Homo sapiens: one gene and its partners. The protein of the gene in region 4 interacts with the protein of the main gene of each other region in a biochemical or structural test. Each region holds a gene or a part of one and is shown on either strand. Other genes may lie near its edges.

The links.
Region 1: the proteins of GTF2F2 (region 4) and ATF4 form a complex in vitro, tested with the Homo sapiens proteins (one study listed by BioGRID).
Region 2: the proteins of GTF2F2 (region 4) and GTF2E1 form a complex in vitro, tested with the Homo sapiens proteins (2 studies listed by BioGRID).
Region 3: the proteins of GTF2F2 (region 4) and GTF2B form a complex in vitro, tested with the Homo sapiens proteins (2 studies listed by BioGRID and IntAct).

What each region holds. Positions count from the first base shown.
Region 1 is NC_000022.11:39,516,000-39,523,208, reverse strand, and holds ATF4 (cyclic AMP-dependent transcription factor ATF-4), read right to left. Parts: upstream 2,648-7,209; 5' UTR 2,458-2,647; exon of another isoform or gene 1,856-2,457; 5' UTR 1,764-1,855; coding exon 1,538-1,763; intron 1,437-1,537; coding exon 607-1,436; 3' UTR 526-606; downstream 1-525. UniProt on the Homo sapiens protein: Transcription factor that binds the cAMP response element (CRE) (consensus: 5'-GTGACGT[AC][AG]-3') and displays two biological functions, as regulator of metabolic and redox processes under normal cellular conditions, and as master transcription factor during integrated stress response (ISR).
Region 2 is NC_000003.12:120,745,740-120,752,764, reverse strand, and holds part of GTF2E1 (general transcription factor IIE subunit 1), read right to left. Parts: intron 2,243-7,025; 5' UTR 2,213-2,242; coding exon 1,765-2,212; intron 1-1,764.
Region 3 is NC_000001.11:88,860,568-88,867,592, forward strand, and holds part of GTF2B (transcription initiation factor IIB), read right to left. Parts: intron 3,548-7,025; coding exon 3,414-3,547; intron 1-3,413. UniProt on the Homo sapiens protein: General transcription factor that plays a role in transcription initiation by RNA polymerase II (Pol II). Involved in the pre-initiation complex (PIC) formation and Pol II recruitment at promoter DNA.
Region 4 is NC_000013.11:45,116,269-45,123,510, forward strand, and holds the start of GTF2F2 (general transcription factor IIF subunit 2), read left to right. Parts: upstream 1-4,241; 5' UTR 4,242-4,387; coding exon 4,388-4,453; intron 4,454-7,242. UniProt on the Homo sapiens protein: TFIIF is a general transcription initiation factor that binds to RNA polymerase II and helps to recruit it to the initiation complex in collaboration with TFIIB.

The DNA of each region.
Region 1 (7,209 bases), on a different chromosome or scaffold from region 4:
TAAGGAGAAACGGAGGCCAACCCTCAGCTCCTGTCCTGTTTCAGCATCAATTCCCAAAAGGAGCCATTTCTTTCTTCAGGATGAGGCTTCTGCAGAACTGTTCAGGTAACAAGTGAAACCTAATCTTGTGTGCTATCTCAAAGACCGTGCAACCTTATTCAGGGTTTTATGCGACAGCTGTTGGCATGAAGCCCTCTTGAATAAACAGGTGGAGGCCCAGGCTGTCCCTCCCTCTGAATCTCCCAGAGATCTCCAGCCTCCTCCCCCTACACAACCAGCACTCAGCTCTGGGCAAAGGACCCAGCTTACTATAAATGGCCAACTATACGGCTCCAGGGCCCCATGAATCAGCCATCGTGGCCTACACCGAGCAGGGATGAGCAAATCCCACTCTGGGAACCGATCTTCAGCCTTGGACTGCCTCCTCCCCCAGATCTCACAGGAAATGTTAAGACCAGCTTGGGGTGGGTGGGTGGCGCTTCACTCGGTTACTTTGCCAGGAAAGGAATTCAAACGCACAAGTACTTTCCCTACAAAATAATTTATTGGAACACACAGCTACAGCACTCTATGTACAAGCACATTGACGCTCCTGACTATCCTCAACTAGGGGACCCTTTTCTTCCCCCTTGCCTTGCGGACCTCTTCTATCAAATCTTTCAGGTACTGGATCTCCTTGGCCAGGGAATCCGCCCTCTCTTTTAGAGCCTCGTTCTTCTTTTCCAGCTCTTTGCACTCACCAGTAAGAGCCTCCTGCTCCGCCCTCTTCTTCTGGCGGTACCTAGTGGCTGCTGTCTTGTTTTGCTCCATTTTTTTCAGCTTCTTATCCAGTTTCTCACCCTTTACTTTTGCTGCTACCATCTTCTCTCCAGGAGGATCGTAAGGTTTGGGACGGGCAGACCCACAGAGAACACCTGGAGATGGGAGGCTCCTATTTGGAGAGCCCCTGGTAGAGGGGCTGTGCTGAGGAGACCCCAGATAGGACTCTGGGCTCATACAGATGCCACTATCATTATCTGAAGGGGTGTCTTCCTCCTTTATGCACTGAGGGATCATGGCAACGTAAGCAGTGTAGTCTGGCTTCCTATCTCCTTCAGTGATATCCACTTCACTGCCCAGCTCTAAACTAAAGGAATGATCTGGAGTGGAGGACAGGACCCCTGGGGAAAGGGGAAGAGGTTGTAAGAAGGTGAAGGGGGCAACCTGGTCGGGTTTTGTTAAACTTTCTGGGAGATGGCCAATTGGGTTCACCGTCTGGGGGGGCTGCTTATTAGTCTCCTGGACTAGGGGGGCAAAGAGATCACAAGTGTCATCCAACGTGGTCAGAAGGTCATCTGGCATGGTTTCCAGGTCATCTATACCCAACAGGGCATCCAAGTCGAACTCCTTCAAATCCATTTTCTCCAACATCCAATCTGTCCCGGAGAAGGCATCCTCTGCAAAACATTTGAGTGATGGGGCCAAGTGAGTCAGATACAAAGGTAGGAGGCCCCTAACCCTAGATCCCACCAGGACGATGTGGTGGTGGCCCACTCACCCTTGCTGTTGTTGGAGGGACTGACCAACCCATCCACAGCCAGCCATTCGGAGGAGCCCGCCTTAGCCTTGTCGCTGGAGAACCCATGAGGTTTGAAGTGCTTGGCCACCTCCAGGTAATCATCTAAGAGACCTAGGCTTTCTTCAGCCCCCAAACCCGACTGGTCGAAGGGGGACATCAAGTCCCCCACCAACACCTCGCTGCTCAGGAAGCTCATTTCGGTCATGTTGCGGTGCTTTGCTGGAATCGAGGAATGTGCTTAATTCGAAGGTGTCTTTGTCGGTTACAGCAACGCTGCTGCTGAATGCCGTGAGAAGCCTGAATGAGAATCAGAAGCCAACTCCCATTAGAGGTTAGCTGTTCTGAGAATTTCATCCTTCCACTTATGAGGCGGGACTTCTCTAGATCGGCCATCTAGAGAATCGGGAACAGGGCAGTTGTATTTGCCCCTCCCTGCTTGCAACTCAGGTTCCACAAAATGGACGCTCACGGAGACCAGGGGATTCTTCCACCGGCCGCCAAGAGGAAAGCGCTCCGTCCCCACGTCCAAATACGGCCAGGGCGGCCGCGCCCCGCCCACCGCCCGCCCTTGACTCACGCCCGCGCCGCCGCCCTGCCGCCGCCATCTTGGTTCCTGCCACGTTTCGTGGGGCAACAGCCAAGACCCCTGGGACCCTTGCGGGGCTCGGGGTCCGAGGGCTGTAGGGCTCCTGGGGAAGCAGTCCGGGCACCCGACTACGCTTTCCCGATCCCAGGCACGCGAGCGTCTCGGGGACACCCAAGCAAAGACCACGCGTCCCGGGCGCTCGTTAAATCGCTTCCCCCTTGGCGGCACCGCCCTGGCCCCAGGCCGCACCCCACCAATCCAAAACCCGCGCCGGCCCCAGGAGCACAGCTGGACGACCCGCCCCGGTACTCACGCCATGGCTTAAGCCGCTGGGGGTTGCCGCTGCAGAGCCTGGTGCTGCTGCCGCCGCTGCAAAGGCCAATGCTGCCGCAGGCACTGCTGCCCCTAATACGCCATGGTGGCCGTGGACCCTGAGGGCGGGGAGGAGGGAAAACGCACACGCGCAGAGAAAACTACATCTGTGGGCGGGCAAAGTAGAAATGGCTGCCGTGGCCGCCCGCCGGCCCTTTATAGACTTCGTCTCTATGGGGACGCAGCACAGACGCATCCTTCCGCCGCGACCACGTGACCGTCTCCTCCCGCCCGCTCCCTTCCCTCCCTCCCTTTGACGCCCCAACCGTTTATGCCCAGGGCGTAGCTGTGACGAGAAAAGGAGTTTGTTCTTATGGCCTCACGAAAGGAGAGAGGTGTACTACTTTACTAGGCTTCTATGATCAGAGTCCGTTCTTTCCTTCGCCGCCGGAGCGCGGAGTGATCTCCCAGACACGCCTCGCTTCCGGTGTCAGCGCAGTGGGCGGGGAAAGGTCGTTTTCCGGCGAAGAGTTTTTATTGTGAAGGCCGAGGACGCCAGGTTATCGCGCGAGGTGCTGGCGAAGAGCGCGCGTCAAGGTGATTGGCCCAGGCCCGGTGAATCATATATATCTCGAGCTCTTATTGGCTCAGGGCCCTAGATGGGCGGCTGCTGGGAGAGGGATCCCGGGGTCCGCGTGGGAAGGGTTGGGGTCTCGGGTCGCTGCTAGTCCTCAGCCAGCCCCGCCTGCTGGCCCGCCACGATCGCGCTGGCTCCTGCCCCCAGGCGGCCTTAGCCCAGCGCACCCCTTAGTGGCCTCAGGGACCAGCCCTTGCGGTCGGATCCCGCCGCCCTCAGTGGAGGTCCGCACTGGTGGCCCCGCCGCCGCTCCCAGCCTGCGCGTCCTTCGGTTGCGGGTGGTGATTTGTGGCCTGCGGAAACCGGGGGGTTACCTGTTCCAAGCCTGAGTTTTCCAGAGGCCCCATTCATAGCCGACACGGCGCTGCTGCCCCCGGGAGGTTGAAGGGGCCTCGAGAGGGCGCGCCGGGCCTGTCCACCTACCCCCAAAGGCCGGCTGAGTCTGCATGGCTCCTCCTAAACTCTGGAAAGGAGCCGGGAAGACGCGCCGTCCTGTCGCCCAACCTGGGTTTTTACAATTTTCATCCGGCTCAAGTGCAAGGCTGCCACAGAATAGCATCATAGAGGAACTTCTGGTGTCCGAAGATTGCGTTCTCCTAAGAACAAGATTTTCTTCGCTGCCGTCTCCCTGGGGTAGTTCGGATTCACTCCGGATTCTGAACTCCCCGGCCTAACCCGCTTTTCAGCAGTCACGCCCATGGCCCAGGGAGGAGAGGCGCTTGGGAACCCACGGCCACTTACTGGGGGTTGTGCGTTGGGAAGGGGTAGTCTGTTTTAAGAATACAAGAAACCTCCCCATCATCCTTCAGCCCCTTCCAGTCAGGCCCTGTGAAGGTGGAAACTTTGAGTTTCCGCCTCCATTTCACTGGGCCACACAAGTATGAGCGCTGTGATATCAAACAACCAGGGAAGCACTGCTCTAAATAACCACAGGCCATCTGCTGCGCTCATTCAACCTCGCCCACAAATCCTTTCCAATGGTAAACCGAGGCCCAATGGGATGAAGCTTCTTGCTCAAAGTCACAAGGCTCCCAGTGGAGGGAGTATGGGGTAGGAGTTAGAAGACAGATTTTGGGGAGCGCATCCAAAAGAATCCTGGCTGGGACATTTTGGCTAAATGACTTATACTCTCTGAGCCTCAGTTTCCTCATTTGTAAAATGAGACTACTGATGAGTATCCTTGCCTCATGAAGTGAGATCATACATGTAAAGCACTTAGCACAGTGCCTGCCTGGTACATGTAAGCGCCCAATAATGGTTGCTGTTGCTGCCACTGTTCATAGAACTCAGGTCTCCTGACCCTGACTTCTGCCACTCTCCATCACATCCTCCTGCTGCCTCAGAGGACTCTTCATTATTATTTAATGAGATGAAACCAACAACTTTAAAACTGGTATACACAAGGCATACTGGATGCTGGAATAAAAGTATGTTTTTTCTTTCTCCTTGGGGAATCGTGAGTGTTGAGATATACAGAAGTTGGCGCCAGGAGCAGTGGCTCCAGCCTGTAGCCCCACCTACTCAAGCCGAGGTGGGAGGATTGCTTGAGCCCAGGAATTCCAAGCTGCAGTGAGCTGTGATCACAACACTGCAACTCAGCCTGGGCAACAGAGCAAGACCCTGTCTTTAAAAAAAAAAAAAATACAGGAGTTTTCTAGCCTTTCCATGCAAAGGCAGTAAGAATACCTGAGCCATTAGCCATGTCTTCCAAAGGCAGAACTAGGGACCCACAGGACGTGTTCTCCTTTTGCTATAGACAGTACCTCCTGACAGATGACTGTGCAAATGGTTGAGTATTAAAGTAACACTGCCCCAATTTTGACACTGAAAAGGTCATAAAAGAATGACTCCCATGGCAGCCTGTCCCATCCATTCTTTTATAGAGACCTAGCTCAAACACTTCAAAGGTTCCCCTAGCTGAAAATGGAGACCCAGTACCACTCCCACAGGAAAATGTTCTATACGACACACACAAGTCACAGCTGTTGGAAAGGAGATGTTTATTTTCTTCTTCCCATGCTATGGAAGGACATTGTATTCCGCAGTTTTATTTCCTCCCTCAAGGAGAAAAAGGACAGCAGGTCTCTGGGCCTCAGGGCTAAGCTGCCCCTACTTATATAGAGCTAACCAAGACAGTACAGAAAGACTGGTGACTGATTCCAAATCTACCAGCTAACACATCCACCACCACTGCGGGCAGGCAAGTGACTAGAAGGCAAGTTGTGGACTTGGCCTCAGGGACCAAGAATTTAAAGACTACAAGGTGATCCAAATGTAAAGGTAAACACCTACTGTGCATTTGACCATGGAACCCACCTCTCTGGTATTCTGGCCACTTACAGTAAGTGGCATCTAAAAGGGCTGCAGCCTCCCAGCCTGGTGCAAGGGTCAGCTCTGTCCTAAGTCTCCTATCATTCTCCTTGGCCTTGAGTTTCAGACAAAAGGGCAGAGTTCTAACAAATCCTCTGACAGAACACGTTCTCAGCCAAGTCAGTCCCAAGGAAGTATCATGGCAGAGAGCTCTGGACACTCGCAGTAGTCTGTATTTACAGAACCCTCCCACCTCGGGGCCTCTCCTGGGTCCTTCCATCCTGAAGCTGATTCCCCTTCAAGACTATTTGAACTCTCAACTTGAGTGGAGTGCAGGGAGCACAGTCAGCAAATGTGGAATATGGACAGGTGGCCGGGACCCAGGAGACCGTGGGCCTCTGCAACGCTTCTTTAAACTTGAGCTTCAACATTTATTTAAATAAAACTTTAAAAGTCATAACCAAGCATGTAAAGAAAAATACTGTCATCTTCAGCTCATTTTTTAGGAAGGGCAACAGAGGAGAACCAAAATAAACTCTGGAATTTATTAGGTTTAAGATAATGAGTGCATTTTTTAAGTGTTAGGCTACGTATAAAGTTTGCTAACCTTGATGGCACACACACAAAAATCTCTAGATGGAGAAGTAGAAGATGCTGTTACTTCAGGCAAAAGTAAGAGTTACTGAACAGGAAGGCAGAGTAGTGGGGAAAGTTACTCATCTTTCCCCAAAGATTTAAAAAAGGGGGCAGGTGCAGAATGTTGTCCTCTTCTATCCAAGAATCTCAAAGCAATTGCCTATGTTCCACACTTTATGATGAGGAAGATGGCAGCAAAAAGAACGGCTTGCCCAGTCATGGTCAGCAAACCCACCAGGACCAGCGCTGAGAGTTCACATTGCTTCTGGTTCTGAGGACTTCTTAAGAGGTTCTTCCTTGTAAAATGACAAAGTTATGGTTTTGTCCAACAGTTAAAAGAGATGCTCTTTAAGAAGGATGATAAACTCATTTGCCTTCCTTAAATGACAATTACACTCAACTTAAATAACTTGGGACTCTTTAAAATCTTATCTTTTTTAAGCTCTTCTTCCAATTTTTATTTTTTTGAAATAGGGTCTCACTCTGTCACCCAGGCTGGAGTGCAGTGGCACGATCTCAGCTCACTGTAACCTCCGCCTCCCGGGTTTAAGTTATTCTCCTGCCTCAGCCTCCCGAGTAGCTGGGATTATAGGCGCCTGCCACCACGCCCAGCTTATTTTTATCTTTTTCGTGGAGACGGGGTTTCACCATGTTGGCCAGGCTGGTCTCGAACTCCTGACCTCAAGTGATCCACCCGCCTTAGCTTCCCAGTGCTGGGATTACAAGCATGAGCCACCGCACCCAGCCTCCTTCCAATGTTTTATGTGAAATTTGGTCAGAGATGCAAGCTTGGGAAAACTTAAATTTTTTTAATACTCATGGCAGGGAAACCAAATCCTTTATCTCAATGAATAATCTATACTTTTGCAACACTCTATCAATCCTCTCCTCTCCCTTACCTCTAACGGATACCCAGTGGGTACACAGGAACCCTGTCAAGCTCTACCCCATACCTTCTAGATTCATCCAGGATGGTACTCAGGCATACAGATTTTTTTTTTTTTTTTTAACTCTCATTTGAGTCTGACCAACAGACAGGGTAGATGAGCTCTCTCAAGATTCTCAGCTTTATGTTTTTTGTTCCCTCTCAATACCTTTATGCAAATGAAACTGAAACCACCATAAGAAATCCTTGTTAAGGGGAAAAGAGGCAAAAAGACCTCTAAATAT
Region 2 (7,025 bases), on a different chromosome or scaffold from region 4:
TTGTTTCAGTTTTAGCTTTATTTCATAAAATACTTTCATGCCCTCTACCCTAACTCCTTGATTCAAGTCACCTTGACTGTACTGGATGGAATGTTAGGCCATCTCTTCCACAGGCCATCTATTGAGTCAACTAGTTTCATTCAGAATCCAGGTGAAATTCAAGAGTATCATGATCAGTCTCCCAAATACTGATATATAAGTAGTGGAATCATCTCCTTTTAGAAAGTTTAATTAAATTAATATGACTCAAATGACAAATAAATGTAGTAGAAGCATGTTATTTTAGATTACTCTAAGGGACTGGATAACACCTTCTACTGTGGTCAAGAGTGATGAAGCCTCCACTGTTAAAACCAACATCTGTAGAGAATTACAAAACCAAGAACCCAGAGCTCCTGTAAGAAATCTGTTAGAGTGAATGGCAAGAATCATGAGACTTTTCTAGTCTATTTTGAAGAGCTCCAGATATATTCTACAACCTTCCTCTATAGAACACTCAAGCAATTCTCATACCGAGGATGGTTAAGACTTTCTTATAATCAAGATCTCTCCTTGTGGAGCCCTTTCAAGGTAAAAAGCTCGGCTCAGACAAATTAAATGTTTAATACAATTGTGAATTCCTTAAATCAGTTTTCATCCAAAATCATTGCCTCACAGTAAATAAGAAAAAAAGGTCACAGATTGCTTCTGGCTCTTTTTGTCAATAATCTTAATTTATATTGGGGTTATTTCCCACTTAAAAATTTTTTTTAATTATTTAAAATGTACCATATATAACATAAAAATTAGAAAATAAAACATACACAGAAATCTGTAATTTTGCACAACCAAATATTTCATGGGTCAAAGTTTAAACTTTCAGACGAAGTTTTTAAAAAAGCAGATCTATGAACTAAAAAGTAGCCTATACTCCTGAATTCAACCATAACAAAGGGACTTAATCTAATTTAATAGCACTGAGTCCTTCTATAGATTTTTACCTGTAGAAAATAAGACAAAATTGATCGAGTATTTAGCAAAACTAGTCTCTTTTTTATTGTGTAAACAGATAACAAGATAAAATAACTATATAACTCAGAACTTTAAAGTTTCTCATGTTTATGCTAGACATATTGTATTTTCAGATAATGCATGCTTTCTAAATTGTGTTATGAAAAATCCTTAAAACTATTCAATCAAATCAGGCCAATTATATATCTTGTTGACAATTTTCTTCCAACAATAATGTGTATCTAAAGGACACTAAATGTCTTATCTTGGAAAGAATTCCCCTCTTATTTCATCTAGCTAACTCTTACTATCTTTTAGGTCTCAAATGTTAACTTCTTCCAGAGGCCTTCCCCAAATCCAGATTATATGCCCTAGTTATATACTCCTGATACCACTTTCTACTTCCACTAACAAAGCATTTAAATACACTGTATTGCAACTGTCTAGAGGTCAAAAATAAAATTAGAACAGCCTCAAAGTGGTAGAGAAATCAACCCTTCAGATTAGGCTGCAGTTGTAAACAAGGTGGGGTGGGCAGAGGCAGGAGGGCCATAAGTGAGAAACTCCCTTGTAAAGGAGAAACGCTTTGCAAAGGCTTCTCAAAGTAGTGCGACAGCCAAACAGGACAGTAAGACTGACTGTATGCTGTGATTTACACTGATCCATTCACTTTTATAATAATATATATGATGGTTTAAAAATTAGATGAATCAATTTAAGAAAAAAGGTAATACACACTTTATTTTAAAGATTCACAAACTGGATAAACCTCACCTGTCATAGGATCAAAGAGCTGATTAGCTTCTAAGTCTGTGAAAGTACTACTACAGACAGGACATTTGAAGGAAGCCCGGTTGGTCGAATCTCTCTCATCGGTCTCAATTCTTCTTCTCATGTGGTCCAGTTTATATTTTACCACATTAACAAGAGTACGATAATTGATGAAGTAGTAGTTATGGCGAGTGGTTTTCCCGTCTGCAGCAGTCTCTACCCTCATTCTGCATTTGATAAACTTGTCTCCCTTTAAATTATTCAAAACTGATCGAAGTTGCTTCCGATCAAACTTGAGCAGCTCCAGCATATCCTCCTCTTTCACACAGGAGTTCCTGATCAAGATGTCCAAGGCCAAGGCATGCTCAATGCCATAAAATCCCCGGATCACATACTTGGCTAACCGCTTCAATGCTGCTGGAACTTCAGTGAGGACATCTGGGTCTGCCATCTTTAGCAACGAACTCCAACTTTAAATATACTGAATTCAAAAAAAAACAGAAAATTAGCCAGGTATAAGAACATGGTAATCATATCCACTATCCTTGCAGTGCCAGAAAAGTACCCAAAGTGTTTAAAAAGATTTCTAATACCTAAGCATTTAACAGAGCAGAACAAGATTTTCCTCTAGAATGCACAAAAGATTACACCCAAAAAGCTTTACATATTTCTTAAATGGCTACTTTTATGATCTATAGTGTGTTTGATTAAAAAGTAACTTTTTATTTATAAAACAATATATTACGTCAAGTCTACTTTACTTCAGAAGAGAAACACAAAAAAAGCTACATGAAATGCTCACTATTCTTTGGGAATGCTGGAAACCCTGAGAAAACTAGCAGTTCGCATTTCCTAAAAGTGTCTTTGTTTCCTTTCTTGAGTAAAATTTTTCTACCAAGATTCTAGGATGTTTTACATAGTCATGCTTTCACAATAAAATCACAACAAACCAATAAACACATGAGTAATCACCACCTGGGGTGTTTGACAAAATCATTAACTGTTGTAAAACTGAAAGAAAGTAATACTTAGATCCAGACAGTTTTACCAACCTTGAAAAATTGAATCTGATAATCAAGGAAAGACCATCCAGTCCTTAAAAAGGTAGAAAATGAGGGAGGGAGAGCAGCCCAAAATATTCTTAAATACTGGATCCCTTGACAAAGCAGAAACTAAGTGTATCTCATTTCCGTACCATGACCCAGAAAGCTGTCTTCTCAAAGCCCACATTGGCATATAGTTTACTTTAAAAACCTGGGCTTCGGGCAGAGACACAACCAAAAAGGAGAATTTTAGACCAATATCCTTGATGAACATTGATGCAAAAATCCTCAATAAAATACTGGCAAACCGAATCCAGCAGCACATCAAAAAGCTTATTATCCACCATGATCAAGTGGGCTTCATCCCTGGGATGCAAGGCTGGTTCAATATACGCAAATCAATAAATGTAATCCAGCATATAAACAGAACCAAAGACAAAAACCACATGATTATCTCAATAGATGCAGAAAAGGCCTTTGACAAAATTCAACAACTCTTCATGCTAAAAACTCTCAATAAGTTAGGTATTGATGGGACGTATCTCAAAATAATAAGAGCTATCTATGACAAACCCACAGCCAATATCATACTGAATGGGCAAAACCTGGAAGCATTCCCTTTGAAAACTGGCACAAGACAGGGATGCCCTCTCTTACCACTCCTATTCAACATAGTGTTGGAAGTTCTGGCCAGGGCAATCAGGCAGGAGAAGGAAATAAAGGGTATTCAATTAGGAAAAGAGGAAGTCAAATTGTCTCTGTTTGCAGATGACATGATTGTATATCTAGAAAACCCCATTGTCTCAGCCCAAAATCTCCTTAAACTGATAAGCAACTTCAGCAAAAAGTCTCAGGACACAAAATCAATGTACAAAAATCACAAGCATTCTTATACACCAATAACAGACAAAAAGAGAGCCAAATCATGAGTGAACTCCCATTCACAATTGCTTCAAAGAGAATAAAATACCTAGGAATCCAACTTACAAGGGATGTGAAGGACCTCTTCAAGGACAACTACAAACCACTGCTCAATGAACTTAAAGAGGATACAAACAAATGGAAGAACATTCCATGCTCATGGGTAGGAAGAATCAATATCGTGAAAATGGCCATACTGCCCAAGGTAATTTATAGATTCAATGCCATCCCCATGAAGCTACCAATGACTTTCTTCACAGAATTGGAAAAAACTACTTTAAAGTTCATATGGAACCAAAAAAGAGCCCACACTGCCAAGTCAATCCTAAGCCAAAAGGACAAAGCTGGAGGCATCACGCTACCTGACTTCAAACTATACTACAAGGCTACAGTAACCAAAACAGCATGGTACTGGTACCAAAACAGAGATATAGACCAATGGAACACAACAGAGCCCTCAGAAATAACGCTGCATATCTACAACTATCTGATCTTTGACAAACCTGAGAAAAACAAGCAATGGGGAAAGGATTCCCTATTTAATAAATGGTGCTGGGAAAACTGGCTAGCCACATGGAGAAAGCTGAAACTGGATCCCTTCCTTACACCTTTTACAAAAATTAATTCAAGACGGGTTAAAGACTTAAATGTTAGACCTAAAACCATAAAAACCCTAGAAGAAAACCTAGGCATTACCATTCAGGACATAGGCATGGGCAAGGACTTCATGTCTAAAACACCAAAAGCAATGGCAACAAAAGCCAAAATTGACAAATGGGATCTAATTAAACTAAAGAGCTTCTGCACAGCAAAAGAAACTACCATCAGAGTGAACAGGCAACCTACAGAATGGGAGAAAATTTTTGCAACCTTTTCATCTGACAAAGGGCTAATAACCAGAATCTATAACGAACTCAAACAAATTTACAAGAAAAAAACAAACAACCCCATCAAAAAGTGGGCGAAGGACATGAACAGACACTTCTCAAAAGAAGACATTTATGCAGCCAAAAAACACATGAAAAAATGCTCACCATCACTGGCCATCAGAGAAATGCAAATCAAAACCACAATGAGATACCATCTCACACCAGTTAGAATGGCAATCATTAAAAAGTCAGGAAACAACAGGTGCTGGAGAGGATGTGGAGAAATAGGAACAGACTTTTACACTGTTGTTGGGACTATAAACTAGTTCAACCCTTGTGGAAGTCAGTGTGGCGATTCCTCAGGGATCTAGAACTAGAAATACCATTTGACCCAGCCATCCCATTACTGGGTATATACCCAAAGGACTATAAATCATGCTGTTATAGAGACACATGCACACGTATGTTTACTGCGGGACTACTCACAATAGCAAAGACTGGGAACCAACCCAAATGTCCAACAAGGATAGACTGGATTAAAAAATGTGGCACATATACACCATGGAATACTATGCAGCCATAAAAAAGGATGAGTTCATGTCCTTTGTAGGGACATGGATGAAATTGGAAACCATCATTCTCAGTAAACTATCGCAAGAACAAAAAACCAAACACCGCATATATCTCACTCATAGGTGGGAATTGAACAATGAGAACACATGGACACAGGAAGGCGAACATCACACACTGGGGCCTATTGTGGGGAGGAGGGAGCGGGGAGGGATAGCATTAGGAGATATACCTAATGTTAAATTACGAGTTAATGGGTGCAGCACACCAACATGGCACATGTATACATATGTAACTAACCTGCACATTGTGCACATGTACCCTAAAACTTAAAGTATAATAATAATAAAATAAAAATAATAAAAATAAAAAATAAAATAAAATAAAATAAAAACCTGGGCTTCGGGAGGTGGAGGTTGCTGTGAGCCAAGATTACACCATTGCACTCCAGCCTGGGCAACAAGAGCGAAACTCAGTCTCAAAAAAAAACAAAACAAAAAAACAAAACAACACAAAACTGGGCTTTGAAATTCAGAGTACACAGCCTGTGTTTTGGTAACTGTGTAATCCTGAGCAAATCCCTTAAACAATTTCAAGCCACCTTTTACTCGCTAAGAAGTAAGGATAGTATCAACTACCTCAGTGGAGTTGTTGTGATTAATAAGAATATAATTAAAGTGCTTAGGAAGGACAGCTTCCATATCAACTTAACATGTTCCAAACTAAAAATGGCTAGACTATCCACACAGATTAAATCAAGTTAAATTTCCCTAGGCCACAGGGAATTTGTTTTTCTTTTCATAGAGAGAGTGTCTTGCTCTGTTGTCCAGACTAGAGTTCGGTGGTGTGACTTGGCTCAGTGCAGTCTCAACCTCCTGGGCTCAAGCAATCTTCCCACCTCAAACTCCCCAGTAGCTGAGACTACGGGTGGACACCACCATGACTGACTAATTTTTGTGTTTTTTGTAGTGACAGGGTTTCACCATTTTGCCCAGGCTGGTCTCGAACTTCTGGGCTCAAGGGATCCACCTACCTTGGGGGCTTCCTAAAGTGCTGGGATTACAGATGTGAGCCACCACACCCAGCCCACAGGATAATTTTTTTTTTTTTTGGAGACAGGGTCTCGATCTGTCACCTAGGCTGGAGTGCAGTGGCGCAAGCTCGGCTCACTGCAACTTCTGCCTCACAGGTTCAAGCAATCCTCCTGCCTCAGCCTCCTGAGTTGCTGGGACTATAGGCATGCACCACCACGCCTGTCTAATTTTTGAATTTTTAGTAGAGACAGGGTTTCACCATCTTAGCCAGGCTCCACAGGATAATTTTTAAGAGAGACATCCCATTGAACTATTTCAATGGAGAATCATATTCTGTTATTAATACTAGTTTCAACTAACCCTTTTATTTGAAATCAGTGGTTATCAACCCAACAGATTTAATACTCTTTTTATAAGAAATATTTTTATATCCACAGTACCATACTATAAGGAAACTCTATACACCAATCTATAACCAATCTATGCATATATTTTGGGGGGAAAATATAAGGCCCTTCCTGTAATAAAGGAAAAGTAAAAGTCAGTCAAAAGAAAATACGTACTTTAGGTTATAAATACTCAGGTATGACTACATATTGTAAGATATAACAAAGTAGCACCTAGATCCAAATCTGTGAACTTAGAGCCTTCCTGCTACCCCAGGGCTTAAGGATGCCTGGGAAGTACCTGGGCTCGACACCAAAGTAGTACCACAGCATACTACTGGACACACTTTTCTCTCCTTTTCGGTTTGGTCTATACATTGTACTTGAACCCCGTTTTCATTTTTTGTTGTTTTACATCCTCAACAGTTGTCAGAACACAAC
Region 3 (7,025 bases), on a different chromosome or scaffold from region 4:
TTAAATACTAGAAAACAGAATCCAACAGCATATTAAAAGGTAGTATATCATGACCAACTAGAGATTGTTCCACAAGATATTAGAGAATCAAATAATGTAAAACATTATATTAATAGATGTAAGAAGAAAAATCATGATCATCTCCAAAGACGCTAAAAAGGCAAATGAACAAAATCAAAATTCGTCTTTGATAAAAACTCATAGGACGCTACAAATGAGTACTTCTTTACATTAGAAAACCACTCTCCTCTGCCCAAAGAAAGTACTATGATTAATGGAGAAACATTACCAGCATTATCACCAAAATCACAAGACAAAGGTACCTCCTACTGCTACCATTTTGTAACACTGATTGGAAAAACTAGCCAATAGTATTAAGCAAGAGAAAAACCGGAAGTACAAAATTGGAAAGGATGTGATAAACTATTTGCAGATAGTACCTTTATACACCTGGAATATGCAAGAAAATCACTAAAAAACAGCTGCTATAAATAATTCATTAAAGCAGCAAGGTCAAGATAAATAGAAATCAATACCCTTCATAAGTACAATCAACCAACTTAAAAGACAAGGAAAGCAAATTTTTCAATTAAAACAACAACAAAAATCTTGAAATAAACTTGAGAAACATGTGAGACGTTCATGAAGAAAACTTTCAAACATCTCCTGAAGGACACATAAGATACCTAAGGAAATGGAAAGGCATTATGAATTTTTGAATACAAGATTTATTATGAAGAAGCCAATTTTCCCTGTGTCAATTTGCAAATGAATCTGACCAAAACCCCAGTGAGAATATTAAATATTAAAAAACAGGCCAGGCGCAGTGGCCCATGCCTGTAATCCTGGCACTTTAGGAGGCTGAGGCAGGCGGATCACCTGAGGTCGGGAGTGTGAGACCAGCCTGATGATCACGGAGAAACCCTACCTCTACTAAAAGTACAAAATTAGCCAGGCGTGGTGGCACATGCCTGCAATCCCAGCTGCTTGGGAGGCTGAGGCGGGAGAATCGCTTGAACCTGGGAGGCGGAGGTTGCAGTGAGCAGAGATCGTGCCATTGCACTCCAGCCTGGGTGACAAGCGCGAAACTCTGTCTCAAACAAAACAAAACAAAACAGGCCGAGTGTGATGGCACACGCCTGTGGTCTCAGCTACTCAGGAGGCTGAGGCAGGAGGGTTACCTAAGCCTGGGAGTTTGAGGCTGCAGTTAGCTATGATTACATCACTTCACTCTAGACTGGGTGACAGAAAGAGACCCTGTCTCAAAAGAAGAAAACCAAAAAACCCCACAGGAAACAGAATCCAACAGGGTATTAAAAGGCAGTAATATCAACCAAGTGGAGACTGTTCCACAAATATATTAAAGAATCTAATAACATAAAACATCATATTAATAGAGCTGAAGAGGAAAATCATTTAATCAACTCCAAAGGTACAAAAAATGCAAGTGAACAAACCTAAATTTTTTTAAAAAATGAAACAAACTTAACCTTTAAATGGAAAAGACTAGCGAAGAAAATGCTGAAAAAGAGCAATGAGGGAAAACTAGTGCTACTAAATACTAAAACAGTGTTGTATGGCATTTGACTAACTGGACCAGGACAGGAAAAGATAGAAAGTTGAGAAATATGCCCAAGTACACATAGAAATTTATTATGTGATAAATCTAGCAGCTTAAAAATATTTCTATCTTGCCCAGGGATGGTGGATCACACCTGTAATTCCAGCACCTTGGGAGGCCGAGGTGGGTGGATCACTTGAGCCCAAGAATTGGGACAAGCCTGGGCAACATGGCGAAACTTTGTCTCTACAAAAAATACAAAAATTAGCCATGTGTCGTGGCCCACACCTGTGGTCCCAGTTACTTGGGAGGCTGAAGTGGAAGGATCGCTTCAGCCTGGGAGGTGGAGGTTGCAGTGAGACGAGATCAAGCTACTGCTGCACTCCCACCTTAGCGACAGTGTTAGAACGTCTCAAAAACAAAACAGACTATACAGGGTTCGGCATGGTAAACTCATGCCTGTAATCCCAGCACTTTGGGTGCCTGAGGCGGGAGGACTGCTGAAGACCAGGAGTTCAAGACCTGCCTGGACAAGAGTGTCACTCTGTTGCCCAGGCTGGAGTGCAGTCGCGCGATCTCAGCTCACTGCAACCTCCGCCTCCCGGGTTCAAGCAATTATTTGCCTCAGGCTCCTGAGTAGCTGGGATTACAGGTGCCCACCATCATATCATGCCCAGCTACTTTTTGTATTTTTAGTAGAGACGGGGTTTCGCCATCTTGGCCAGGCTGGTCTTGAACTCCTGATCTCCACCCACCTCGGCCTCCCAAAGTGCTGGGATTACAGGCATGAGCCACTGTGCCCAGCCAGACAGATTTTAAACAAGACTTTTTTGGAAAAAAAAAAAAAAGAGACTATGCAATAGTATACATGAAGTTATAAAATGGTGTATACTTCCTTGATTAGCCCTCAGTAATACCGTCACTATTACTTCCAACTCGGATAACAGAGTGAGAATCAGGCTGCCAAGAAAACTATACTATTGCCTTACACAATGATAGCAGCTACCACTGACTGAGCACACAGTATACAATACATGTTATATAAATACTTTACATACATTCTCATGAAACCCTCAAAAACTCTATAAGTACTCTTATTCTCATTTTACAGATAAGGAATGTAAAGTTAGGTAAGTCATAAATTCACTAATATCAGAAAAGAGGTTACACTAACCTCCCATTTATCTTAAGTGGTATAGAGAGAAAAGAGAAGACATTCTTTTCTTTTTTTTTGAGACAGAGTCTCACTCTGTTGCCCAGGCTGGAGTTCAGTGGCGCGATCTTGGCTCACTGCAACCTCCGCCTCCTGGGTTCAAGCAATTCTTCTGCCTCAGCCTCGCGAGTAAGCTGGGACTACAGGTGCCCGCCACCAAGCCTGGCTAATTTTTCTATTTTCCTTTTTTTTTGTAGTAGAGATGGGGTTTCACCATATTTGCCAGGCTGGTCCCGAACTCCTGACCTTGTGATCCGCCTGCCTTGGCCTCCCAAAGTGCTGGGATCACAGGTGTGAGCCATGATGCCCAGCTGAGAAGACATTCTTGATATTCAAAGAACATATCAATATTAACTCATGAAGGCCACACTACACTCATTTTTTGTGTGTACAGAAAATGTCATTTATGAAAAAAGGCCTGATATAAAGGCTTTATAATTTTGATTTAATGGTCTTCCCCACTTTAAGATGGAATACACACACAAGTTAGCCATCATTCACAATGATATTACTGGCAAATCTTATTAGACAGGTCAAGATTCCCCACTGGTGCAGTGACTGATACTTTTGCAAAGTTCCCAAACTCTCAGGTCTATGGTCACTCTGCAATTGGTATTTCCTGCCAAATGGACTTATTACCTTGCCAATCATGGTAGACAAATCTCCATCACTCAGAAGAGGATTCTGAGAATCTCCAACTCGAGATGGATCTTTTGTTGCTTTGTCATTGCTGAAAGTTCGCCATTCAGATCCCACATCAATAACCCGGTCACCTAAGAATATAAGCACATATCTGAATCATTTTGTCAAGATAGGGTTTACTTAACTACACTGTCCAATGCCCAACTAAGCCATTTTATTCCCAGGAAATCTCAACATGGACATCTAGGACCAAGCTTAAATATCACATTTCAGACATTTGTCCTAAAGCATTCCTTTAACTATTGTGCCAATCTAACAATAATCCTCTTGAAACATTATGCTATGATATTCTAACTCTTGGAAGAAAAAGTATTAGTCAAAAGTAGCAAAGTACAGCTATTCATATGTGATGCAAAGGTAAACCAATGTAATAATGATTAAGAACCAGATTTTGCACAAAATTTGCAATAGGCATGGGAAAAAAAGAGAAAACATTTTTTAGAATGGTATTAATGCAAATAATTTCATATTAAAATGTCACTAAGTTTGCGTGGGAAATGCTTCGCAGAAAATAAGCCTAAGCTTCTGTTTCAAAGTAACAATCTGATGAAAAACATACCTGGCCAAATAATTTATACAGAATAAACCTCAAGCCTAGAATCCGTGAGAAGAAAGCCTGGTAGGCAAACTTTTCTCTTTAAGCAAAGAGGCAGCATCTAAATATATCATGTCCAATAAAAGCAGACACAAGTAAACCTTATTATTACTGTTTTGGTGAGAAAGCTCAATGTCTGGCAATACCTTCAGAGTAGACAAAAGTTAACACTGAATACTTAACACATACTACTCACTGTGCCCTTTTGTAAATGTTCTCACTTAATCTTCACAGCCTTATAAAGGTAGGTACCAATTTTATTGCCACTTTACAAATAAGATTAACTAGCCTAAGATCACATAGCTAGAACTGAAACGCACATCAGAGTTTGTTCTACACTCCAATTGTAAAACATGACCTTTTTCAGTGAAGTGTGATGAAGCTGAAAGTAGGAAGGAACCAGACCATTTCATCTTTGTGTATACACAGCAAACAGAAAGAAACAAACGGCAGAAACCAGTTACTGTAGCAATTAGAAGTTACGGTACTAGCAGTCAATTAATATAATAGTCAGGGGTGTGAACTCTGCCCTTTGCTGCTTAGCCTTGGAATATTACTTCATTTCTATGTCTTTATTACCTCAGCTCTAAAATTCTCTTTAACCTCATATTTTAAAGATTATAAAGACTAAGCTATTATAATACCCATGTACAGTGCATGTAAAGTGCTTAAAAAGTAGTACTAAGTGCTCAATATTCACTATTTACTGCTATGAAAATTAGAAAGATAGCAAATATTCTGAGTTTCTCCTTTTTTGTGGGGATGATAAGGGAGACGCATCAGTTTAAAACATTAATCTCCAGCCGGGTGTGGTGGCTCAGGCCTGTAATCCCAGCACTTTGGGAGGCCGAGGCAGGCGGATCACCTGAGGTCAGGAGTTTGAGACCAGCCTGACCAAGATGGAGAAACCCCGTCTCTACTAAAAATACAAAATTAGTTGGTCATGGTGGCACATGCCTGTAATCCCAGCACTTTGCGAGGTCCAGGCGGGCTGTCACCTGGTTGGGAATTTGAGATCAGCCTGACCAACATGGAGAAACCCTGTCTCTACTAAAAATACAAAATAGCTGGGCGTGGTGGCACATGCCTGTAATCCCAGCTACTCAGGAGGCTAAGGCAGGAGAACTGCTTGAACCTGGGAGGTGGAGGCTGTGGTGAACTGAGATCGCAACAAGAGGGTAACAAGAGTGAAACTCCATCTCAAAAAAAAAACAAAACAAAACAAACAAACAAACAAAAATTAATCTCCATAGAAGACTTTAAAAGCTTCCAAGTGCTCCGCTAAGTATTTGATCAGGAGGACAGCAAAGAACAGAGAAAACGGAAGGAATTCCACCTAGACTATGCTAACTTTTTAATTTTTTATATAAAAATTAATTTAAATGCTCATAAACAACCAGAGTATAGTGATCATATAATCTTAGTGATAGATTTAAAAAAAGGCTGGGCATGGTGGTTCACACCTGTAATCTTAGCACTTTGGGAGGCTTAAGCAGGAAAATCACATGAGCCCAGGAGTTCAAGACCAGCCTGGGCAACATGGTGAAACCCTGTCTCTACAAAAAAATACAAAAACAAATTAGCTGGGCGTGGTGGCATGTGCCTGTAGGGAGGCTGAGGTGGGAGGATCACCTGAGCCCAGGAGGTTGAGGCTGCAGGGAGCCATGATTACACCACTGCACTCCAGCCTAGGTGAGGGAGACCCTGTCTAAAGTAAGCAAATGCTCAAGAGAATGATTCATTTCTGAAGCCTCTGACAAAATTTTTCTTTTTTCTTTTCCTTTTTTTCAGACAGGGTCTCACTCTGTTGCCCAGGTTTGAGTACAGTGGTGCAATTTTGGCTCACTGCAGCTTTTGCCTCTGGGGCTCAAGCAATACTTCCACCTTAGCCTCCTGAGCAGCTACAGATATGCACCACCACTGCCTGCCTGGCTAATTTTTGTATTTCTTGTAGAGATGGGGTTTTGCCATGTTGCCCAGGCTAGTCGTGAACCCCTAGGCTCAAGTGATCCACTCACCTCGGCCTCCCCAAGTGCTGGGATTACAGGGGTGGGCCACCATGCACAACAGAAAAACTTTTCTTTAAACAACTGAATCACCAAGGTAAAAGCGGATTATCAGTTGGACTACCATGTGTCCACATTACAAAGGGATTGAGATTAGAGGCAGAGTTCCCATGTGCCATCCCTGTATGCAAGGAGAACACGCAAGGAAGGCAGAAGCAGGACAGTAAGTTAGAAGGCAATTTTAATACATCACACATTGAGCAGGTGGCCCGAAACAAGGAGAAAAGCGTTAGATGGATGGCATTACAAGGATTTATCTGTTTCCTCTTCCTCATAATAAACATCACTAAACTTAGGAAGCAGTTTGAATTATGCAGATTTTAAAAAGATACTTAAAAGTATCATAAATTGTCATTGTGCACTGAAACCTTACCAAACCACTGTGCAGTGAGTACTATTCACCAACAAGCCCATGTCTCAAAGAGATCACACTAAAGAGATCAATTTTTCTTCCTTTTTACAAAATATTTGCTCACTAAAAGATACGTTAGAAAAAAATTACCTGCATTCCCAATACCCAATGACCACTATATTTTCATATATGCTCTGTGTTTTTCGTTCATATGTATGCACCTACGTTTTCCTAAAATTTAGATACTGTGCCTGTTTCATGACAAGCTCTTTTCATTAAATTTATCATAAACACCAGCATGGTATTTTTAGACAGAATTTAGTCCCTTTAATAGCATCCACCAATTAAAGTGATACCATGGTGTTCCCATGCACTTATGTCCAAAGACAGAAAAGACAATCTAACTTTCCTATTTGGCAAAATAAAAACACAAACATGCATAGAACAAAAATAACCGTGGCCTTCAAACCCAGAGTTACTAAATTTTAAGCTAAAAAAAATCAACAAATGTCATCAATAACTTGCAATATTTTTAT
Region 4 (7,242 bases):
GCCAACATGGTAAAATTCCATCCCTACTAAAAATACAAGTTAGCCGGGCATGGTGGTGCATGCCTGTAGTTCCAGCTATTTCAGAGGCTGAGGCATGAGAATTGCTGGAACCTGGGAGGTGGAGGTTGCAATAAGCCAAGATAGTGCCACTACACTCCAGCCAGGGTGATAGAGCAAGACTCTGTCTCAAAAAAAAAAAAAAAAAAATAGTAAAAAGCTTGACTCCAAAGCTCATGCTCTCTCTCTATACTAAACAATATGGAAACTATTTTAGGAAGTATTTCTTTTTGTTTGTGTGTAACTGGGGAAACAAGGGATCTCCCAGGAATTTGGGCATTCTATGAAGGAGGGAACTGTTAGGGTTGAAGGGAAAGGCAGGGAGAATTCAGAGACGTTTTATAGCCTTGGTGTCATAACGAAGCAAAATTATCTACCTACTACATCACTGATGTCAGGGAAATTGAATGAATTACCACAATGCTGTATTCATTTGTAATTTTTGAATGACAATGTTTATGTTAGTAACCAATAGGTAATGAGTCTGGTCTATTAAGAAAGACCTGGTGGTAGCATTTTTTGCCTATATGAACTCTCCTGGAGGTAATACTTTTTCTTGCTAGAATGTTTCTGAGTAAGTGTGAACAAAGAAAATCTCTGGCCTGAAGAGATCAGGCCTGTGTATGATAGACAAGGACAAAATCTGAAAGTGAACTCAGCTATCTGTTAAAGTCATTCTAATTCCCTCAACTCACTTGTAACATCTCGCCTAATGGCTTTGCTGCTTATTCTCTAATAGCTACCTGATAGAATTGTGGTGTTCTGAATTAACAAGGCATGAGGGAATTCTAGCTGTAAGGCTTTCTGGTAAATTTTTTCACGTGTCTCAGACTTTGGAAACTGGCCCAGTTCTAATGAACTATATTGATTAGAAAAATATCGATTAGAATTCTATCGATTAGAACTCTATCATTTAGAACAATGATTCTCAGATTTTGGTGTGCCTAAGAAACACTCTGGGAGCTTGCTAAAAGTGTCAATTTCTAGACTCACATCCAGAAAGTCTAATTTTGTTTGCCTGGATTGGGGCTCAGGTGTCTTCATTTTAAAACACATTTCCCCCAGGTAATTCTAATGCAACTTGTACAGGAACCAGAGGCTGAGAACACTCATCTAGACTGAAGCATGTTTTGTGGTGGGTGTGGTGTTAGGGGTTTTTCTTGCTGCAGCTAGTCTGGAAGACACACAAAAAAGAACGTAGTTCTGCCTATTAAGCAGGTTGGGGCTGGGCATGGTAGCTCATGCCTGTAATCCCAGCATTTTGGGAGGCTGAGGTGGGTGGATTGCTTGAGCCCAGGAGTTCAAGAGCAGCCTGGGCAACATGGTGAAACCCCGTCTCTACAAAAAATACAAAAATTAGCTGGGTGTGGTAGTGTGCACCTGTAGTTCCAGCTACTTGGAAGGCTGAGGTGGGAGGATAGCTTGAGCCCGAAAGGTCAAGCTGTAGTGAGCTGTGATCATGTCATTGCACATTCCAGCCTGGGTGATAGAGCAAGACTCCGCCTAAAAACAAAAACAAAAACAAAAACAAAGCAGCAAAGAAGGTTGGGTGGCCTTGAGGTCTGACCTAGAATCTAAGCCCTAGATAAAGATGGAGGTTCAAGTTGGCCTAAGCACTACCAGACTTTTTGGAAAAATTGCAGCCAGCAATGAGTTCTTGGGCCCTCCTTCCTAGAATTGCATTTGCGCCTTAAAAATTTTGGTAACAACTTGACTAGTTAATCATCTGAGGGAGTAAAAAATTTTGGTGTTACCTTCTCTGGGGCACTGACTTCTGCATCCTATGCTCTGTGAGCCCCATCCTGGGATATGGTCTCAGCTCTTGGATGTTGATATGTTTAATGACATATAGGGCTATATTGAGGAAAAATAATACCTACTCTGGCAAATTGTTATAAGGATTAAATGGGATAATACAGAAAATAACTAGCTGAGGATCTGGCATATAATGAGTCCTTAGGAAGGTGAGGGATCTGCCTGTAGTATCTATCCACCTTAAGGGTCTCCACAGTAAATCTGTGAATTTGGTTCATAGGGGCCATGCCCTCCTTTTCTATCAGGGTTCTGTAAACATCCCTCTTCAAGCTAGAAGGGGTTTGAAAAGGACAGACAGGAGAAGCTTGCTCTTTGTTCAACAGCGTACGAGGAAGAGGTGCTCAATACGTTGTTTTTTTCTTTCTTCTATGTATCATTTTAAAATCTCCACTTTTCCGTTCTTCGCTAGCCCTTTCATCAGCCATTTTTTTTCTCTCTCAATCTCTGTGTACACACACATACACACATACCCACACCACGTACACATTTTAAGGCCTCCCATGACCCAGAGACCAAAGCCAGGGTTCCAATCTTTAAAGTCCATTCCTGGGGTGCTCTAGACTTTGCTTCTCTTCTCCCATGGTCTCATATTTCAATTTATTCCTTCTCCTTGATTAAAGTTTAGAGCAGTTCCCTTAATCTGCTTACTCTTTATATGTTTTAAAAAGGCCCTTTTCCAAGTTGTTGCACAAGAAGAAACCTTCATTTTCTGCTTAAAAAAATTTTTTTTTGTTTTTCTTTTTTTTTTAGAGATAGGGTTCTTCCTATGTTGACCAGGCTGGTCTCGAACTCCTAGCCTCAAGTGATCTTCCCATCTCGGTCTCCCAAAGTGTTGGGATTACAGGTGTGAGCCACTGCGCCTGGCCAAAAAAATTTTGTTTTTAGTATTTATTTTTTAGAGACAGGACCTTGCTCTGTCACCCAGGCTGGAGTGCATGGCACGATCATGACTTACTGTAGCCTTGAACTCCTGGGCAGACACAATCCTCCCACCTCAGTCTCCCAAAGTTAGGGTTACAGGGTTGAGCCACTGAGCCTAGCCTGAAACTTTCATCTTCAACACACTCCTGGTCTCTCCCATCTTTCCTATTAGTTTTCCTAGCTAAAAGCAGAGTTCTGACAGCTTTTCCTGGCCCTATGCTGAACACACATAAAATTTCCTCAATTTTGTGCAAGGCTCTGATGTGTGATTCAATAAATTACTTGCCATTCTTAACAATACCTTACTGTTTGTTTCTCTTCAGCGAATGTTCTTTCACCCAAAGCCTACTGAAACCTGACAATGTGTTAAACACTGTGCTAGACATTGTGGATATAAAATGAATAAAGCACTATTTTTTATTTGTCAATTATACCTCAATAAAGCTCTTTCCGCCTAGGAGGAGTTCATTGTCTGGAAAGCAAAGGCAGATATGTAAACATATATATTATAGTTCAGAGTGCTAAGTATCACACTGTGATGTGAAGAAAAACTAATTTCTTCTGGGGAAGTTGATAAAAGATCTCATAGGAAGTGACATTTTCATTGGTCTTGAACCATAAGTAGGAGTTTGCCAACCAGAGCACAGGGGTGAGAGTGAGGGCAGGGGTAAAATAGGGCTTCCAAGGGAAGGGAATCCAGTGTGCAGAGGCTCTGAAATGACCGACGAAGATTCTGACGTGTTTAGGGAAGTCTGCTGGGTTTGATGTGGTTTGGTGCATGGCGGAGTGATGGTGGGAGGTGCAAAGAGATGAAATTGAGAGGGCCCAGTTGAAGCAGGAGGATTGAACTTTATTCTAGAGGCAATAAGAGAAAGAGAAAACTGTTTAAGCAGGGGAGGAAACGATCAGGTTTGTCTCTTACTTGTTCGTTTCGTTACAGACTTCCGGGTTTTGGAAACTGAGGTGCTCCGCTTGCTTCATCAGAACAGCTCGGGTAGCCTCTGAGCTGAAACACGGCTTTTTTTTTTCCAGGTCTAGAAACGGCATGTTTTCAATATACCCAAGGCTACTAAGTTTGATCCCAGTGCCCATTTGTGCTAATGACGTTGGCCAGGGACGCCAATTTACTACCCTGACCCTGTCCTTCAAATATTGTCTCTCTCTCCTTGGCTAGGGTTGGACATGTTCTGACACCTTTCGTCTCTTTGAACCCCATTTTTCCGTTCTGATAATCTTTTTCTTCAGTTATGCTGACCATGTCTTTAAATACATTGCTAACGTTTTAGCTCATCCCACCCTACGTTTTAATCCCTCAGATGCAGACATCGCGGACAGCCACGCCCACTCAAGAAATTTCCGAAACAGAAAGTTTGTCTGCAACAGCGCGCCGTACTGACGTAGCAGTGCGCAGGCGCAGTCCCGGCTCCTGGCGGCGTGTTCCTCTTTTCCTCGGTTCCCAGTGTTCTGGCAGGTAAGGAACGCCGGCTCTTCGCCTCTCAGCGCGGCTTGTCCTTTGTTCCGGACGCCCGCTCCTCAGCCCTGCGGCTCCTGGGGTCGCTGCTGCATCCCGCACGCCTCCACCGGCTGCAGACCCATGGCCGAGCGCGGGGAACTCGACTTGACCGGCGCCAAACAGAACACAGGAGTGTGGCTAGTCAAGGTAATGTTCGCGAGTCTCCCACTTGCGCTCCTCCTAACACAAGTATAGTTTAAGTAACTTGAGCCTATCCCGCTCCGTGCGCCTCTTAAAGTTCTTTTACGGCTATCTCGTTAGAGCTTCACACATTTTGAGAGGCAGGAGTCATTGTTGTATCTGTTTGCAGACGAGGAATTAGTTTAGGGACGCAAAGTGTCTTTCAGCCAGTTACTACTCTGAATCTGCCTGGACTAGATCTCTTTCTCACGGCTTTCCTGGAATCTTGTCTTGGTGTCCCCAGATTTGGACGGTGCATTTTATCCCAGACTGAAGAATTCCTTGTATCTTCCCTTGGTGAAACTGGTTTTAGCCATGAGCCTGCGTGAGGTAGTTGAATGTCTACTTTCTGTACAGTTTTCTCGGCCAGAAAGTAGGACTGGTCCCTGCCTACTCTTAAAAGTGTTCTCTTAGGTTGATGGTCCTTAATGAAGCTCTCAAAAGAGGCGAGAGAGCCCCAAACTCACAGAAGGAGAGGTCATTGGACTGGAGTATTCTTTTAGAGCACATTTGGGTCTCGTGAAACTGGCCGTCAATAAACGTTTTATGTGAAGACAGCAATTTTGGTTAGCTCACAGTAAGCACTATTTGTGCTTTATTGTTTCATATTGGGGAGTGTTTTCTCCTAGGGGAGTTTCATAATACTTAAGCATATTCAAAATGTGATCCTGAAAGTCGTTGAAACTTAAAATGTAAGGACTTTTGGTTTCTTAATGCTTTAACTGTTTTATCACATGGCTGAGTTCTCGTCAATTAAATCTAAGAGGTCTTTCTTGTCGGCCTTCCTAAAACAGCCCCCTTGTGATCATTTGCTAACACGACAGATGTGTATTACATTCTTCAAAGCACTTTTCACAGTGTAGAGTGATTTTGTGTTCATATGTTCAAAGTTGGTTACCTCTGTCTTTCCAACACACAGAATCACATTCCATGAGAACAGGATCTTTGCCTGTCATACCCAGAATAGTGTTTGGCGCATGGTAATTACTCAACAAATAGATGATGAATAAATGCATGACCTCTCATTCTTCAGCCCTCGCCTTAGTCTGTGGCACTCATTTGACTTATTTCCAAACTCAGTGTGACTTAAAAGGATGGATTAAATAGGCATTTCTCTCTCCAGCAGCATGTTACTTGGGGGGAGAGTCACTAAGGAGGAGATTGCCCTTACGGACTGAAGGAAAAAGCTTGAAAAAATGGTGTGACTTGAGATGGTGCCATTGTCCTAGGAGCATGGTAAATGCTCAATGTTTGTCTTACAGGATTTGGATGGGTGGACACAGTGTATACCATGGGGAATGGAACAGAAATGCAAGACTCAAAATATATAATCAGCATGGCGTGTTGTGGAAAACAGAGAGAACCTAGAGCAGAAGATCTGTGTAGATGAAGATGGGGACCATATACTCAGATTGTCATATCATGAAACGGAGATATTCTAACTTTAGTTTACAAGGAAGTAACGAACTTTTTGGAGGATTTGAGTGAGGTAGAGATGCCAGATATTTATTCAGGAAAAAAAAAAATGTTTGGCAGTGTGCAGTACGAATTAGAGGGGAGGGTAACCAGAGTCACAATTAGAAAATTATCACAGGATCGGGCTGGGCATGGTGGCTCACGCCTGTAATCTCAGCACTTTGGGAGGCCGAGGTGGGTGGATCATGAGGTCAAGAGTTCGAGACCAGCCTGGCCAATATGGTGAAACCCCATCTCTACTAAAAATACAAAAATCAGCCAGTCATGGTGGTGTGCGCCTGTAGTCCCAGCTACTTGGGAGGCTGAGGCAGAAGAATCACTTGAAACCGGGAGACGGAGGTTGCAGTGAGCCGAGATTGCTCCGTTGCACTCCAGCCTGGGCAACAGAGCAAAAATTCCTTCTCAAAAAAATAAATAAATTAAAAAAAAGTGTAATTTGTTGCTTAGAAAGTGTATCTTCATTCTCATCTAATCAGAATTTGAATTGAAGTACATATTGATTTCAAGTTTTTTCTCCTTACATTAATTTTCCTATTAAAAATAATACCTTGAGTTCTGATCTTTGTTGCTAAATAATGTTTCTTCCTAGGATATCTCACGGTTTATAGATCATCTTGTACATATTTAATTCCATCACTAGACAGGTATAGAACTGTGTAAATACAGTAAGAACTATACATACAAGATCTCTGAGAGTTTTGAGCGGGAAAAAAATTAGTGCTTCACCAGAACTGGGAAGACATCATAAAGAAGGTGACGTTTAAGAAAAGCCTATTTGGAGGTTGCAGTGAGTCAAGATTGTGCCACTGCATGCACTCCTGCCTGGGCGACAGAGTGACATCCTGTCTCAAAAAAAAAAAATGGATGTGAGTGTGATCTGTCTGGGACATCTGTCACCCCATTGATTACTAGGGTTGATTTGGCTAATCTGGCTGGCTAGGCGGGTGTCTCCTTCCTCCCACACTGCTCCATGTATGTCCCTCCCGAAGCTGCACGCTTGACCAAAGAGGATGACCATCCGGATAGAGGAGGACTGGTCTTCAGTCAAGGGTATATGTATGGTTGTACTCCCCTGCTAGAACCTCCAAAGAAGCTTTCAAGAAGAGCTTATGGCAGGCCGGGTGCAGTGGCTGATGTCTGTAATCCCAGCACTTTGGGAGGACGAGGTGGGCGAATTGCTTGAGCCCAGGAATTTGAGACCAGCCTGGGCAATATAGCAAAACCCTTTATCTACAAAAACTATAAAAAGTTAGCTGGGCGTGGTGGTGTACGCTTGTAGT